2 separate regions of the Homo sapiens genome follow, and region 1 is linked to region 2. The links come from fine-mapping of genetic effects on gene expression. Tissue or cell type: whole blood. Region 2 holds a variant in brackets; the other region holds the start of a gene. All regions are shown on one strand. Distances are from middle to middle.

Evidence for each region. PIP is the estimated chance that this variant, and not a neighbour inherited with it, causes the effect.
Region 1: RNF10 starts here. The variant in region 2 is fine-mapped to the expression of RNF10 in whole blood (INTERVAL, PIP 0.93).

What each region holds. Positions count from the first base shown.
Region 1 is chr12:120,530,079-120,538,173 of GRCh38, forward strand. It overlaps RNF10 (ring finger protein 10), which reads left to right and starts at 4,278. Exons shown (of 17, transcript NM_014868.5): 1 at 4,278-4,890. The coding sequence starts at 4,734. LOC128071547 reads left to right here and starts at 4,619. Exons shown (of 1, transcript NM_001414895.1): 1 at 4,619-4,879. The coding sequence starts at 4,619. The coding sequence ends at 4,879. RefSeq lists silencers at 4,176-4,329, 4,428-4,497.
Region 2 is chr12:120,478,613-120,486,715 of GRCh38, forward strand. It overlaps a transcript of DYNLL1 not described here. Among named protein-coding and RNA genes, the nearest start is that of SRSF9, 13 kb to the left of the region's middle. The variant AT/A (reference allele first, on the strand shown) is at 3,714.

The sequences.
Region 1 (8,095 bases), 51 kb after region 2:
GAAAATTCTCTTCCTGGTTTAATATAGCCTGACAGATGGACACCTAACCGCTTTCGTTTGGGAAGTACTGCGCTGGGATTTCTGTTTCTTTCTCTTTTATTTTAAGAATGATAGAAGGTCCTCGTTGGTATAGTGATGAGAAAAAAAAAAGGAAGGATACAAGGGCGAAATGATTCATCCATGTATTCATAATTCTCATGTCTTTGTTAAAAGAAATTAAGTGGCTGGGTGCGGTGGCTCACGCCTGTAATCCCAACACTTTGGGAGCCCGAGGTGGGCGGATTGCATGAGGTCAGGAGTTCGAGACCAGCATGGCTAACATGGTGAAACCCCGTCTCTACTAAAATACAAAAATCAGCCAGGCATGGTGGTGCACACCTGTAGTCCCAGCTATTCAGGAGGTTGAAGCAGGAGAATCCCTTCAACCCAGGAGTCACTGGTTGCAGTGAGCTGAGATTGCACCACTGCACTCAAGCCTGGGTGACAGAGCCAGACTCCATCTCAAAAATAAATAAATAAATAAATAAATAAATAAATAAAGTCTCATCAAAGAATCTTATATCTTCCATATCTAGTTATATAAAAGAATGGATCTCAGGATTTAGGGCTGTTCCTTCTGCACATCAGATTAAGTATCCAGACCAACAGTATTTCACTGTTCTCTTATTTCATATGATATGTGGAGGAAAACCTGTAAAAAGTGAAGTAGGACAAGGACTGTTGGAAGGTATTTTTTTTTTGAGGTAGCGTCTTGCTCTGTTGCCCAGACTGGAGTGCAGTGGCATGACTTCGGCTCACTGCAACCTCTGTCTTCTGGGTTCAAGTGATCCTCCTGCCTCAGCTTCCCTAGTAGCTGGGATTACAGGCATGCGCCACCATGCCAGGCTAATTTTTGTATTTTTAGTAGAGATGGGGTTTCGCTATATTGGCCAGGCTGGTCTTGAACTCCTGACTTCAGGTAATCCACCTGCCTCAGCCTCCCAAAGTGCTGAGCCACCACTCCCGGCGCTAATTTTTGTATTTTTAGTAGAGATGGGGTTTCACCATTTTGGCTAGGCTGGTCTTATTTACTTATTTATTGATTCATTCTTTATTTTGAAATAGGATCTCACTTTGTCACCCAGGGTGGAGTGCAGTGGCACAATCATAGCTCACTTCTCACCCTCCCAGGCTCAAGCCATCCTCCCACCTCAACCTCCTGAGTAGCTGGGACTACAGGTGTGCACCACCACACTGGGCTGATTTTTGCATTTTTTGTTGAGACAGGGTTTTGCCATGTTGCCCTGAATGGTCTTGAACTCCTGGGCTTGGGCAATCTGCCTACCTCAATCTCCCAAAGTGCTGGGATTATAGGCGTGAGCAACCGCACCTGGCCCTGGTCATTTCCTTAATAGCATGTCTATGTGATCTTTTGAATCTCAAACTACTATGGTTGGAAGGGAATCATTTGTAATTTTCCAAAGTACAAATAGGTGTGGTATGATTCCCAAAGTCTTAGCGTCTATATCTGTAAACCATATGTTTTTGTTTTTTGTTTTTTAATTTTTAGTAGAGAATTGGTTTCACTATGTTCAGGCTGGTCTCAAACTCCTAACATCAAGTGATCTTCCTGCCTCAGCCTCCCAGAATGTTGGGATTGAGCTACCTTGCCTGGCCACATACATGATTTTCCTTTTTTTTTCTTTTTTTTTTTTTTTGAGACAGAGTCTCGCTCTGTCACCCAGGCTGGAGTGCAGTGGCCCAATCTCAGCTCACTGCAACCTCCGCCTCCCAGGTTCAAGCGATTGTCCTCCCTCAACCTCCCAAGTAGCTGGGACTACAGGTGTGCGCCACCACGCCCGGCTAATTGTTGTATTTTTAGGAGAGACGGGGTTTCACTGTATTGGTCAGGCTGGTCTCGAAATCCTGACCTCGTGATCTGCCCGCCTCGAACTCCCAAAAAGTGCTGGGATTACAGGCCTCCCAAAAAGTGCTGGGATTACAGGCCTCCCAAAAAGTGCTGGGATTACATTGCACCTGACCCACATACATTATTTTCTTTCTTCTTTTTTTTTTTGAGATGGAGTCTCGCTCTGTTGCCCAGGCTGGAATACAGTGGTGCAGTCTTGGCTCACTGCAACCTGTGCCTTCTGGGTTCAAGTGATTCTCCTGCCTCAGCCTCCTCAGTAGCTGAGATTACAGGTGCGCACCACCACGCCTGGCTAATTTTTTTGTATTTTTAGTAGAGACGGGGTTTCACTATGTTGGTCAGGCTGGTCTCGATCTCCTGACCTGTTGATCCACCCGGCTTGGCCTCCCAAAGTGCTGGGGTTACAGGTGTGAGCCACCGTGCCCGGCCCCATATGCATGATTTTCTAAATCTCAGTCTGTATCTGTAAAATGAGGAACTGCTTGTCTCATAGGTAAGAACATCACTTGTTAGCTATGTGATAATAGGCAAATTATCTGGACTTTTGGAGTCCATTTACTCATCTTTAAATTTTATTTATTTAGGGACAGAGTCTTGTTGTGTTACCCAGGCTGGATTCATACTCTTGGGCTCAAGTGATCATCCCTCCTCAGCCTCCTGAGTAGCTGGGACTACAGGCACACTTAGTCTAAAATTTAGTTATTGAGAAGATTAAATGTGATAATGTTAACAGCTGTTAAATACAATTTATAGGAGCCCATTGTTTTGCACTGAGCTTCAGCACAGTAGACCAAACCAAAACAGAGTTACTCAAGGTGAATTTCTACCCAACCACGCCTAAACGAAATTGTTTATCTGACCTTCTGAGAAATCATCAAATCCCCAAACTGGTCAGTTTTACCCCACATAAGGAAGTCCATTCTGCTTAAACCTTTACAAGAAAAGTAATTTTGAAATGACTAATCTGCTTTTTGTTCTCTGTTTCTACTTTTTAAAAAAAAGTTTAGACAGGGTCTCCCTCTCTGTCACTCATACTGGAGTGCACTGGCACGATCGTATCTCACTGCAACCTCCAACTGCTGGGCTCAGGTGATCCTCCCACCTCAGTTTCCTGAGTAGCTAGAACTACAGGTGTGCAGCCACAGCCACTATGCTTGGCTAATTTTTTTTTCTTTCTCTCTTTTAAATTAAAGTTAGTTTTATTCAAACTATTTTATTCAGAGCCCAGCTAATTTTTGTATTTTTAATAGGGTCGGGATTTTGCTATGTTGGCCAGGCTGGTCTTGAACTCCTGGCCTCAAGTGATCTGCCCCCTCCTCAGACTCCCAAAGGGCTGGAATTACAGGTGTGAGCCACCACGCCCGGCTGCCCAACTAATTTTTTAAAAAATATTTTTATTCTTTAGAGACAGGGGTCTCGCTATATTCCCCAGGCTGGTCTGGAACTCCTGGCCTCCAAGGATCCTTCCACCTCTGCCTCCCAAAGTGTTGGGATTACACGCATGAAACACTGCTTATGGCCTGTTTCCGCCTCTGTCTCCTGGGTAATGGGGACCACAGGTGCGCACCGCCACGCCAGGCTAAAGAAATAAAGTGATGTACTGTATGAAGAAGTGCCGTAAAGTGATATTAAATGTAAGGTATTGTCATTATTAACGTTATTATTATTATTCCTAATATGAGATAGACTAAAGGCCATAAATCAATTGGTATTAACGCTAGAATAAGAACCATAAATTGGCCGGGCGCGGTGGCTCACGTCTGTAATCCCAGCACTTTGGGAGGCCGAGGTGGGCAGATCACGAGGTCAGGAGATCAAGACCATCCTGGCTAACACGGTGAAACCGTGTCTCTACTAAAAATACAGAAAATTAGCCGGGCGTGGTGGCGGGCGCCTGTGGTCCCAGCTACTCGGGAGGCTGAGGCAGGAGAATGGCGTGAACCCGGGAGGCGGAGCTTGCAGTCAGCCCAGATCGCGCCACTGCACTCTAGCCTGGGCGACAGAGCGACTCCGCCTCAAAAAAAAAAAAAAAGAACCATAAATCAAACGAGTCTATAAAGGAGTTCCACAGGTATTCCAATGTTTGGCTACATTATTATCAGTGTATATTATTATTGTTACTGTATTTTTAGTGTACTAAGTGAAAAACCTGGACTTGGAGCAACTGCAAGTCCCATTATTTTGAATGCCCTCACAGTGGGGTTGGGGCGGAGGTGGGGGAGGAAATAAAAAAAACAAAACCAAAACAAACAAACAAACAAAAACCAAAAAACAAACCACGAGACCCGGATGTAGGCAAAAACTACATTTCCCAGAATACCTCACCCCCTCTCCACTATATATACAGTCCATCCGGGTTCTTTGAGATGCTGTTTGGCGACTCGTCGCCATTCCCGGAGCAGGTCGGCCTCGGCCCAGGGGCGAGTATCCGTTGCTGTGTCGGAGACACTAGTCCCCGACACCGAGACAGCCAGCCCTCTCCCCTGCCTCGCGGCGGGAGAGCGTGTCCGGCCGGCCGGCCGGCGGGGCTCGCGCAACCTCCCTCGCCTCCCCTTCCCCCGCAGCCTCCGCCCCGCCAGGCCCGGCCCGGACTCCCGAGCCCCGGCCTCCTCGTCCTCGGTCGCCGCTGCCGCCGGGCTTAACAGCCCCGTCCGCCGCTTCTCTTCCTAGTTTGAGAAGCCAAGGAAGGAAACAGGGAAAAATGTCGCCATGAAGGCCGAGAACCGCTGCCGCCGCCGACCCCCGCCGGCCCTGAACGCCATGAGCCTGGGTCCCCGCCGCGCCCGCTCCGCTCCGACTGCCGTCGCCGCCGAGGCCCCCGTTGATGCCGCTGAGCTCCCCCAACGCCGCCGCCACCGCCTCCGACATGGACAAGAACAGCGGCTCCAACAGCTCCTCCGCCTCTTCGGGCAGCAGCAAAGGGCAACAGCCGCCCCGCTCCGCCTCGGCGGGGCCAGCCGGCGAGTCTAAACCCAAGAGCGGTAAGGACGGGCCTGCGGCAGTGGGCGGGGGCGACTGCCCCTGCTGCTGGGGAGAGTCGTTGCTCTCATCGGCTGGGTTACTCGGGGACAGGCTCCACTTTCTTTTATAGCTCCTACCTGCCCTTTTCCATGGCTCTCATTTGCAGTTACATTAATGAGCGCTGTGCTGCGTGGTTTACGTGGATCATTTACATTAATACTCAAAACTGCTCGATTAAGCAGGTGCTGTTCTTATCGCCATTTTGCATATGATGAGAAAGGGTAAGGTCACCCAGCTAGTATTTGGCTCACAGCAGGCCTTAAGACTTGGTTTGTGTGACTCATCAGTCCACGCTCCTAAAACCACTAAGTTGTTCTACCCTTTAATGTTGAATTAACATTGGATAGTGTTCAAGTTTAGATGGGTGGGTGAGGGCCCAAGGACCTTTCAAACTCAGATCTCTTATTTAATAACCTGGTCCCAGATCCATTCCTCTGTCGAAGAGGAAGTCATCCTTCAGTGGCTATTCATTGTGGGGTTAAGAGCGCAGACTATGAATTCAGTCTTTTTGGGTCCCAGTTTGCCAGACCTTGAGTGAGTGCCCCGAGTTTACTTACTTGTAAAGGTAGGTGGAGGTAATATAATTAAATAAACTTAAAAAACTAATTAAAAACAAAACAAATGAACTAAGGTCTTAGGATATCTGGCGTCTATTTTGCGCCAAATACACATAATGTCTATTGTTGTGTGTTGGACTATAGGATTGTCCTTTAACAGGGAAGGTTTTATTTCTGTAATCAAGTCTGTCAATATTATGACCATGTTGATAATAGCTACCTTTAATTGAGGGCTTACCATGTGCCAAGTACTAGGTGAAGTTTTTACCTCTGTTTTCACTGTGCCAGTCACTGACTTGTCTACCAGGGTGAAATTGTTCATATTTAAAGAAGGAATAAACTGAGCAGGTAGGATGTTAGGAGTTGGCAGAGGCTAGAGTCCCGGTGTTCTTCATTTTATTTCGAAGTTTGTACTAATCTCTGCTCTCTTTTGTATTTCAGTCACATTAGCAGTAATAGGAAGGTGTTTTCAGCGACAGTGGGGATGTTGTGGCAGAGAGGGAAATATTTGAAGTCCCTAAATGTGGAGGTCCAGTTTAAAACTTGTCAAGATTAAAAAAACTGTTTAGAGTGAGACCGGGCGCGGTGGCTCATGCCTGTAATCCGAACACTTTGGGAGGCTGAGGTGGGAGGATAGCTTGAGCCCAGGAGTTTCACACCAGCTTGGGCAAGATAGTAAGACCCTCGTCTCCATAAGAAAAAAAAAAAATTAGCCGAGTGTGGTGGCACACACCTGTAACCCTACCTACTTGGAAGGGTAAGGTGGGAGGATCGCTTAAGCTCAAGGAAGTTGAGGCTGCGGTGAGCTATATCACGATACTGCATACCATCCAGCCTGGGTAACAGAGACCCCCATCTCTAAACAGTAAAAAGAAAACTAAGGCTGACTTAAAACAAACAAAAAAAACAGAAAATTGTAAGGTCTGCTAACTCGCTCAGAGTTCACCTGCTGGATATGGCAAACTTGTTTACCTGGTGTGAGACCATTGGAGTATGGGTTCTCGGGCCGTGTCAGGAAATGGCATGTATGCAGACTGATTTTGCAGTTCTGCACATGCGTAGCTTTGCCATAGATCCCTCAAAAGATAGAAGGTAACCAGTCCTTTTGGTCAGTGTTGGAACTGGTTTAGAGTGGTCTGTTCAAAGCAATTGATAAGTAAGTTTATTTTTGTACTCTATTCCCAGATGTATGTTAAGGATTTGGTTCTCCAACTGTGAATTCTCAACTAATTTTTCTGGGGCTCCTCTTTAAGCCACTAACATACATTCATTAGTCAGTTGCAATAAATGCCTTAAGTTTATTTCTTAGCAGTAGGTGAAAGCTTGTGACAACTTAAAATAAAACAAACAAACAGGTATTTAAGGAATTTTACTGCTATGTCCTTCACTTTGAATATGTTGGTTAGTGGAATTAACTCTGATTACCCAACAAGATGATACAGAATTCTATAGTAGTTTGACCAAAGCAAGTATTTGTCATTGTTAACATTTCAAATGGGCTGGGTGGCTATAATCCCAGCACTTTGGGAGGCTGAGGCAGGCCGATTACTTGAGCCCAGGAGTTCGAGACCCTGTCCTACAAAAAAATAAATGAGCCGGGCGTGGTGGCACGCACCTGTAGTCCCAGCTGTGAAGAGGCTGAGGCAGGGGAGGAGGAAGAGCACTTAAACCCAGAAGTTCGAGGTTGCAGTGAGCCACGATCACTCCACTGCACTCTAGCCTGGGTGGCAGAGTGAGACCCCGTCTCAAAACAAGAAAACTTCTGTAAAAACTCATGTAGGCCGGGTGCGGTGGCTCACGCCTGTAATCCCAGCACTTTGGGAGGCCGAGGCAGGTGGATCATCTGAGTTCAGGAGTTTGAGACCAGCCTGGCCAACATGGTGAAGCCCCGTCTCTACTAAAAGTACAAAAAATTAGTCCGGCGTGGTGGTGCGCACCTGTAATCCCAGCTACTCGGGGGGCTGAGGCAGGAGAATCCCTTGAAACCGGGAGGCGGAGGTTGCAGTAAGCCAAGATTGCACCATTGCACTCCAGCCCGTCTAAAAAAACAAAAACTCATGTAAAGGCCCTTTGTTAGATTTTACAAATAACACATATGTGCCTTGAGGCAGCATTCTTTTTTTTTTGTTTAATGTGTGTGTTAGAAAGCTTGACCATGTTTGCCACCGCCAGTGTCTGCTTTTCTGGCTTCTGCTGTGCGTGTTCGTTTAGCAAGGAAGGATGGGCTTTGTAGCCAAATCCATGCTTCTTCACTAGCCATAATCCACTGCTTGCATTTAGGAACAAATTAAAAGGCAGGATATGTGGAGATTAAAAGGTTAGGAAACTGGATATTGGCTGATTTTTAAAGTTGAAACTAAGCTGCCTTAGGAACGTAACAGCTAAGACCAGTGCTACTACAGCAGATACTCAGGAGCTCTGATGCAGTGACTTCACGATGAGATGGTTGCTCTAACAAAAGGGTACACTCAAGCTCCGCATAATCCCATAAAAAGATTTCTGCAGTATCTCATAAGCTGAACACTTCATATACTTGATTCTGCTGGGAATCATTGAAAGGACCTCTTGAATTACAGAGTACTGAGTTGAGGGGAAAACAAGCGTAAGG
Region 2 (8,103 bases):
AGGCTGAGGCGGGCAGATCACTTGAGGTCAGGAGTTCGAGACCAGCCTGGCCAACATGGTGAAACCACGTCTGTTTTCTTTTCTTTTTTATGAGATGGAGTCTCAATCTGTCACCCAGGCTGGAGTGCAATGGCACAATCTTGCTCACTGCAACCTCCACCTCCTGGGTTCAAGCAATTCTCCTGTCCCAGCCTCCCGAGTAGATGGGATTACAGGCGCCCGCCACCACGCCCAGCTAATTTTTGTATTTTTAGTAAAGACAGGGTTTTGCCATGTTGGCCAGGCTGGTCTTGAACTCCTGACCTCAGGTGATCCACCTGCCTCGGCCTCCCAAAGTGCTGGGATTACAGGCGTGAGCCACCGCACCAGGCTGTGAAACTGTCTCTATTAAAAATACAAAAATTAGCTGGGCATGGTGGCAGGTGCCTGTAATCCCAGCTACTCGGGAGGCTGAGGCAGGAGAATCGCTTGAACCCGGGAAGCAGAGGTTGCAGCGAGTCGAGAACACACCACTGCACAGCAACCTGGGTGACAGAGCAAGTCTCCGTGTAAAAAATAATAGTAATAGGCCAGGCGCGGTGGCTCACGCCTGTAATCCCAGCACTTTGGGAGGCTGAGGCGGGCAGATCATCTGAGGTCAGGAGTTCGAGACCAACATGGAGAAACCCCGTCTCTACTAAAAATACAAAAAATTAGACGGGCATGGTGGCACATGCCTGTAATCCCAGCTACTCAGGAGGCTGAGGCAGAGGAATCACTTGAACCCGGGAGGCGGAGGTTGTGGTCAGCTGAGATCACACCATCCAGCCTGGGCATCAAGAGTGAAACTCCGTCTCCAAAAAAAAAAAAAAAAAAAAATAATAATAATAATAATAATAATAAAATTTAAAAAGGCAATTATAACAAAATGAGATATGTGCTACAAGAAATTCAGGGCACTCCTGCAGCTCTTAACCCAGGCTGGAGGGGAGTGTTCAGGGAAGACTTCCTGGAGGGAGTGGCTCTTCTAAACTGAGACCTGAAGAACCAGATGGTGCTAGGCAGGTAAATGAGAGGAGAAGAAAAGCATTCCAGACAGAAAGAAAGCACTGCAAAGAAAGCTGGGAGGACAGAGGCAAGCTTGGGGCTTTCGGGAAGCTAAATAGTTCAGCACAGTTAGAGCATGGGGTGGAGGTGAGGGCTGTTCTTCCTTGCACTAGTGCCACAAGCTACTTACAGTGAGATGCCCTAATGTAAATCAGAGCCTGGCTGGGTTAGATTACACATGTCAGTCCTAAGTATTTCAGATGTTCACTGGCAATCAGTATGAGTTGCCTTTACCATACAAATGTTTATTGTATATCCCTGAATAGGATGATTGTAAAGGGGTGGCATGATCAGTCTGGGGGAAGGGGCCTTGAGGGGAGTATGGTCTCACAGTGTCCAAAGGAGAGCTGTGAATAGCAAAAGGATGCTTGTTTGGAAGACAGAAGGACAGCAGAAGGGGACAAAGCAAAAATCCAATCATCCCTCCTTGTGTGAGGAAGATGGGGCTCAGGGGGAGCGGAATTCAAAATGTGAGGATGTTTATTAAAACCTATGGTTCCCCCAAAATTAGAGGGGACCTCAATCTGCATCCAGAGGGGGCTGGTTAAGCAGGAAATGTACAGTTCTAGTTCTGAATACTATGCAAACATTAAAAATACCACATTCATATGTGTGGATATGAAAAGATCTCCAAGATACTGACATCTACAGTGTGTACTGTGCTAGATGCTAGGGACACAGCAGAGGGGACAAAGTGTCTGCCTCCCTAGAGACAACACCATCTCCACACCCTCACCTTGGCCTTCAGGATGTGCCTGAAGCAGCTTCTCCTCCACTCCTGCTACTCCTGGCAGCTTCTCTGGGATCTGCTGTCTGGAAGCCTGTGTCCCTTTCCTTCCTCCAGGTCTTTGCATGGGCTGGCTCCTCTCCCTGGACACTGTTTTGCTCCCTCTACCTCTGCCTCCCGAGTCTTTGCCTGGCCAAGGCCTCCTCAGCCTTCAGGTCCTTGACTTAGTAAGGGGCCCAGGCCTGTGTGACCCAATCTAGAACTTTCCTTTGAGTTTATACCTCTGAAAGGCCTTGTTGTCTCCCATTATGCCTTTTGTTCCACCTCAAAGCATTTTTCTTTTTTTTTTTTTTTGAGACGGAGTCTCGCTCTGTTGCCCAGGCTGGAGTCGTGGCTCCATCTTGGCTCACTGCAAGCTCCGCCTCCCGGGTTCACGTCATTCTCCTGCCTCAGCCTCCCGAGTAGCTGGGACTACAGGCGCCCGCCACCATGCCCAGCTAATTTTTTGCATTTTTAGTAGACATGGGGTTTCACCATGTTCGCCAGGATGGTCTCGATCTCCTGACCTCGTGATCTGCCCACCTTGGCCTCCCAAAGTGCTGGGATTACAGGCGTGAGCCACCATGCCCGGCTCACATATTTCTTAATTTCTTTTTTCCTATTTGTAGTTTATGATTCTTATATTTATTGAAGTCTGTATGTATAACACTGTGCTAATACCAGTGACTTCCTGTGATGTCTTATCTTTGACACTATTTCTGACACCAAATGTGTGGTGCGGTCTTTATCTCTGGCACCAGATACGTGTCATTTTTCCACATCAATTGTTCAATTATCTGAGATCAACTGGACCTCTGAAAATTCTATTCAGTTCTGACACTAACTACCCAGAGTTAGCACAGACCCTGAACAAAAGTTAAGGACTGAGTCCCACAAGACCGCCCCCACTTTAGATGCCTGCACAAATGAGGTGCCCCAGCTACCCACATTTTTGTTGGGCCTACTACAAATTCAGAGGTTCCCACTCACCCCCTTCAGGTTCAATAATTTACTAGAGTGACTCACAGAACTCAGGACAGCACCTTATTTACATTTTCCAGTTTATTATAAAGGATACAACTAGGATCAACCAAATGGAAGCGATGCATAGGGCAAGGCATGGGGCGGGGCACAGCAGGAGGAGGTGGGAACAGAGCTTCCATGTCCTCTCCAGGTGCACCACCCTCCCAGCACATCAATGCGTTCATCATTCCAGACTTTCGGAACCTCCTGTTCAAGAGTGTTTGGAGCCCAGTCTCTAGCCCCACTCCCCTCCCTGGAGGTTGGGGGAAGGAGCTGAAAGTTTCCATCTCTAGTAATGTGGATAGTCTTTCTGGTGAACTCCCATATGTATGTTAATAAAATAAATGATTAAATTTTGTCTTCTTTTTGTTTGTTTTAGAGACAGGGGTCTCGCTCTGTTGCCCATGGGGCAGTGCAGTGGCATGATGCTAGCCCACGGCAGCCTCGACCTCCTGGACTCAAGTGATCCTCCCGCCTCAGCCTCCCAGAGTGTTGGGATTATGGGTGTAAGCCACCACGCTTGGCCTTCTCTTGTTAATATATCTTTCGTCTGTTTAATTCACAGGTCCCCAAAGACTAAACCTGAGGGTAGATAAAAAGTTTTTCCTCCCAGACACTGTCTACAAACTGATTCTAAAATTTACAGAGAAGCCAGGGCACTGTGTTTTGCACCTGTAGTCTCAGTTGCACACTTGGGAGCTACTTGGGAGCTGAGACAGGAAGATCGCTGGAGGCCAGGAGTTTGAGGCTATAATACACCATGATCATGCCTGTGAGTAGCCAATGCACTCCAGCCCGGGCAACATAGAAAGGCAAAGGTACTAGATTTGCCAAAACA[AT/A]TTTTTTTTTTTTTGAGATGGAGTCGCGCTCTATCGCCCAGGCTGTAGTGCAGTGGCGCCATCTCGGCTCGCTGCAAGCTCCACCTCCCGGGTTCACGCCATTCTCCTGCCTCAGCCTCTCAGGTAGCTGGGACTACAGGCGCCTGCCACCGTGCCCGGCTAATTTTTTGTATTTTTAGTGGAGATGGGGTTTCACAGTGTTAGCCAAGATGGTTTCAATCTCCTGACCTTGTGATCCGCCTGCCTCGGCCTCCCAAAGTGCTGGGATTACAGGCGTGAGCCACCATGCCCGGCCTAGCCAAAACAATTTTTTTACAGAGAAAGGCAAAGGTACTAGATTAGCCAAAACAATTCTGAAAAAAAAAATAGTCAGAGGACTCACATACTCACATTACCCAACTTCAAGACTCACTATAAAGTTACAGTATTCAAAGTAGGGTGGTATCAGCAAAAAGATAAACACATAGAGCAGTGAGACAGAATAGACAGCCCAGGCCAGACATGGGCTTTGGGAGGCTGAGGCAGGAGGATTGCTTGAGTCCATGAGTTCGAGACCAGCCTGGGCAAGATGGCGAGACCTCCATCTCTACAAAAAAGTAAAAATTTAGCCAGGCATCGGTGGCTCGTGCCTGTGGTCCCAGCTACTCGAGAGGCTGACGCAGGAGGATCCCTCAAGCCCAGGATCCAGCCTGGAAAACAGAGCAAGACCTCATCTCTTAAAGAAAAAAAAAGGCCAGGCACGGTGGCTTACACCTGTAATCCCAGCACTTTGGGAGTCTGAGGCGGGTGGATCACAAGGTCAGGAGTTTGAGACCAGCCTGACCAATGTGGTGAAACCCCGTCTCTACTAAAAATACAAAAATTATCTGGGTGTGGTGGTGCACACCTGTAACCCCAGCTACAAGGGAGGCTGAGGCAGGAGAATTGCTTGAACTTGGGAGGTGGAGGCTGCAGTGAGCTGAGATTGTGCTACTGTACTCTAGCCTGGATGACAGAGAGAAGCTCTGTATCAAAAAAAAAAAAAAAGGTCAGAAGAAGAGCGAAGGTGGTGAGATATATTTTCAAGATTGAGCTTAAAGAATTTAAGCTCATTAATGTGCTTAAATTAGATGTGAGGTGTGAGGAATATACACAAGTCAAGGAAAACTTCTAGATCTCTCTCCTGAGCACCTGGAAGAATGCAGTGGCTATTTACAGTGATAAGGAAGCCTGCAGGATAAGCAGGCAGGTTTGGGAGTAGAATAGGTCTGTTGTGGATGTGTTAGGTTTGAGACAGATGCCTGTTAGACATCCTAGAGCTATTTCAAATAGGACTTAGAGATATGGGATGGGCATTCAGGGGCAAAGTTTGGGGTGAAAATACAAATTTGAGAGTTGTGAGCCATGAAATTTAAAGCCATGAAAATGGAGACTCCCAAGAGAGAGTTTAAATAGAGAAGTAGCCCAATAGAGAAGGCCTGGTTCACTTCTTCCTTCAGATGTCATGGAGAAAAGGGGAAACAAACAGAGGAGCCTGAGGTGGAGCAGCCAGTGAGATGGGAGGACAGCTAAGAGAGTGTGTGGTCCTGGAAGCCAAGGGAGGACCCAGAGGAAGAGAGCAACTGTGACATGTATGGCCATGAAGGGCACTGAGAATTGGCCACTGTGTTTAGCAGCATGGTGGTCACCGGTGACCACCACATTTGAGCTGTGTGGGTGCAGTGGATTAAAGAGAGAATGGGAGGTGAGGAATCGGGGACAGGGAGTACAGACAACTCTTGGAGGAAAGCCGAGATGGGATGGTAGCTACAGGAGAATGTGTAGGCAAGGGAAGCATTTTTAAAAGAATATGACAGCATGTTTGCACGCTGGTGGGAATAATCCAGTAGACAGGGGAAACTGATGATGCAGGAGAGGGAGAAGAGACAATCACAGGAATGAGAGGAGATGGACCCAGTGCCAGGGAGATGGCCTTAGATAGGAGCATGAACAGTTCATACAGGGTAACGGCAAGGGAGGCAGAATGTGTGTATACAGATGTGGGTGGGTGGGTGGGGACAGGTGGTGGAAATGCATGGAAGTTTATGAAAGGAATAAAGTAGATTTATATATCGTGACAGGGAACTCAGAATCATCCCATTTTGGTAAAAAGGAAAAAAGCCTGTTATATGCCGGGAAAAAATCAAATTTTAACATTATCTTTGAGTTGTAAGATTACAGATCTTACAAAGGAACTTTCTTTTTCAGATTCTAAATTTCTACAGTGTTTCACTTTTATACAATGAGTACCTATTACTTCTGAAAGTAGAATTAAAAAGATTATTTTTATCTTTGAAAGATATTCATCAGAACAAAGCACTGTTACAATACTGAAAAACTGGAAGCAACTTAAGTGTCCACTGATAAGTGATTGTTTCAAGAAGTTATGCATGGACTTTTTTTTTTTTTTTTGAGACGGAGTCTCACTGTGACACCCAGGCTGGAGTGCAATAGCGCAATCTCGGATCACTGCAACCTCCGCTTTGCTTCCTGGGTTCAAGCGATTCTCCTGCCTCAGCCTCCTAAGTAGCCTACAGGCACGCAACACTACACCTGGCTAATTTTTTATATTTTTAGTAGAGATGGGGTTTCACCATATTGGCCAGGCTGGTCTCGAACTTCTGACCGCAAGTGATCCAACCACCTGGGCCTCCCAAAGTGCTGGGATTACAGGCGTGAGCCACCGCCCCTGGCCGCATGGGCTATAAAGAAGCTATTAAAATTGGGCTGGGTGCAGTAGCTCATGCTTGTAATCCCAGCACTTTGGGAGGTGAAGGCAGGATGCCTGCTTGAGCCCAGGAGTTTGAGGCTGCAGTGAGCTAGGATTGCACCACTGTACTCCAGCCTGGGTGAGAGTGGGACCCCATCTTTAAAAATACATAAGTAAATAGTTATGTTGTAGAAGGCTTTTTTTTTTTTTTTTTTTTTTTGAGATGGAGTCTTGCTCTGTCGCCCAGGCTGGAGTGCAGTGGCACGATCTCGGCTCACTGCAACCTCCACCTCCTAGGTTCAAGCAATTCTCTGCCTCACCCTCCCAAGTAGCTGAGATTACAGGCGCCCACCACCACACCCAGCCAATTTTTGTATTTTTAGTAGAGACAGGGTTTTAACATCTTGGCCAGGCTGGTCTTGAACTCCCGACCTCGTGATCCACCTGCCTCGGCCTCCCAAAGTGCTGGGATTACGAAAAGCAGGTAACAAAAATGATACATTGGCCAGGTTCAGTGGCTCATGCCTATAATACCAGCACTTTTGGAGGCCAAGGTGGGAGGATTGCTTGAGCCCAGGAGTTTGAGACCAGCCTGGGCAACATAGTGATACCTCATTTTTATTAAAAATCAAAAAAATTAGCCAGGTGTGGTGGTGTGCACCTGTGATCCCAGCTACTTGGGAGGGAGGGGCAGTCGGATCCCTTGAGCCTGGGAGTTTGAGGCTGTAGTGAGGTACGATCGCACCACTACACCCTAGCCTATTTGACAGAGTAAGTCCCTGTCTAAAAAAAAAAAAAAAAAAAAAAAGATACATACAGTGTGATAGGTATTATATGATATGAATATGTTCTTATCTGTAGACTGGATGTATTTAAGACAAAATATTGACAATGGTTATCTCTGTACAGTTAACATTTATAATTCATTCCTTGTGTTCTTCTGTATCTACTACCATGTGCATTTATTATTTTTGTAATTTTTAATAAAAAACGGGTGTCAGGAAAGAAAATTGATTAAAACCCCTGTAAATATTTCACATGTGTAATGGCTGTGACATTGAGTTTGAGAACAGCTGCAGTTGGCTGCACTCATTACATTATTTTACTTTATAGCTTTGTAGTAAAGGTTGATTTATATGAGCCGAAATGGAAAATGGTCACAGAGAAAAGAGTTGCAGAGGCCCTGGCCAAAACCACCTGGCACCCTGCTAATGAAATAATACCTTTGGAGTTTCTTGGGGGAAGTGGCTCCTGGAAGAAACAGATTATTATGTACAGCCTTAAGCTCTGGCTTTGTGATCCTAAGATGATAAGTTTGGGGGTACCAAGGGTTCTGCTCTTACCGAGAGAGAAAAACAACTTCTTTGCATTCCCCTCTCTGTCCCCTGAGAGAACCAGGGCTTTGCAAACAGATGTTTCTGTTTTTGTTTTTGAGTCAGGGTCTCGCTCTGTTGCCCAGGCTGGAGTGCAGTGGTGCAATCATAGCTCACTGCAGCCTTGAACTCTTGGGCTCAAGCAATCCTCCCCGCTGTAGCCTCCTGAGTAGCTGGAACTACCGGCACACCCCACTATACTAGCTAATTTTTTATTTTTATTTTTGGTAGAGATGGGGTCTTGCTATATTGCCCAGGCTGGTCTCCATCTCCTGGGTAAGGCATCCT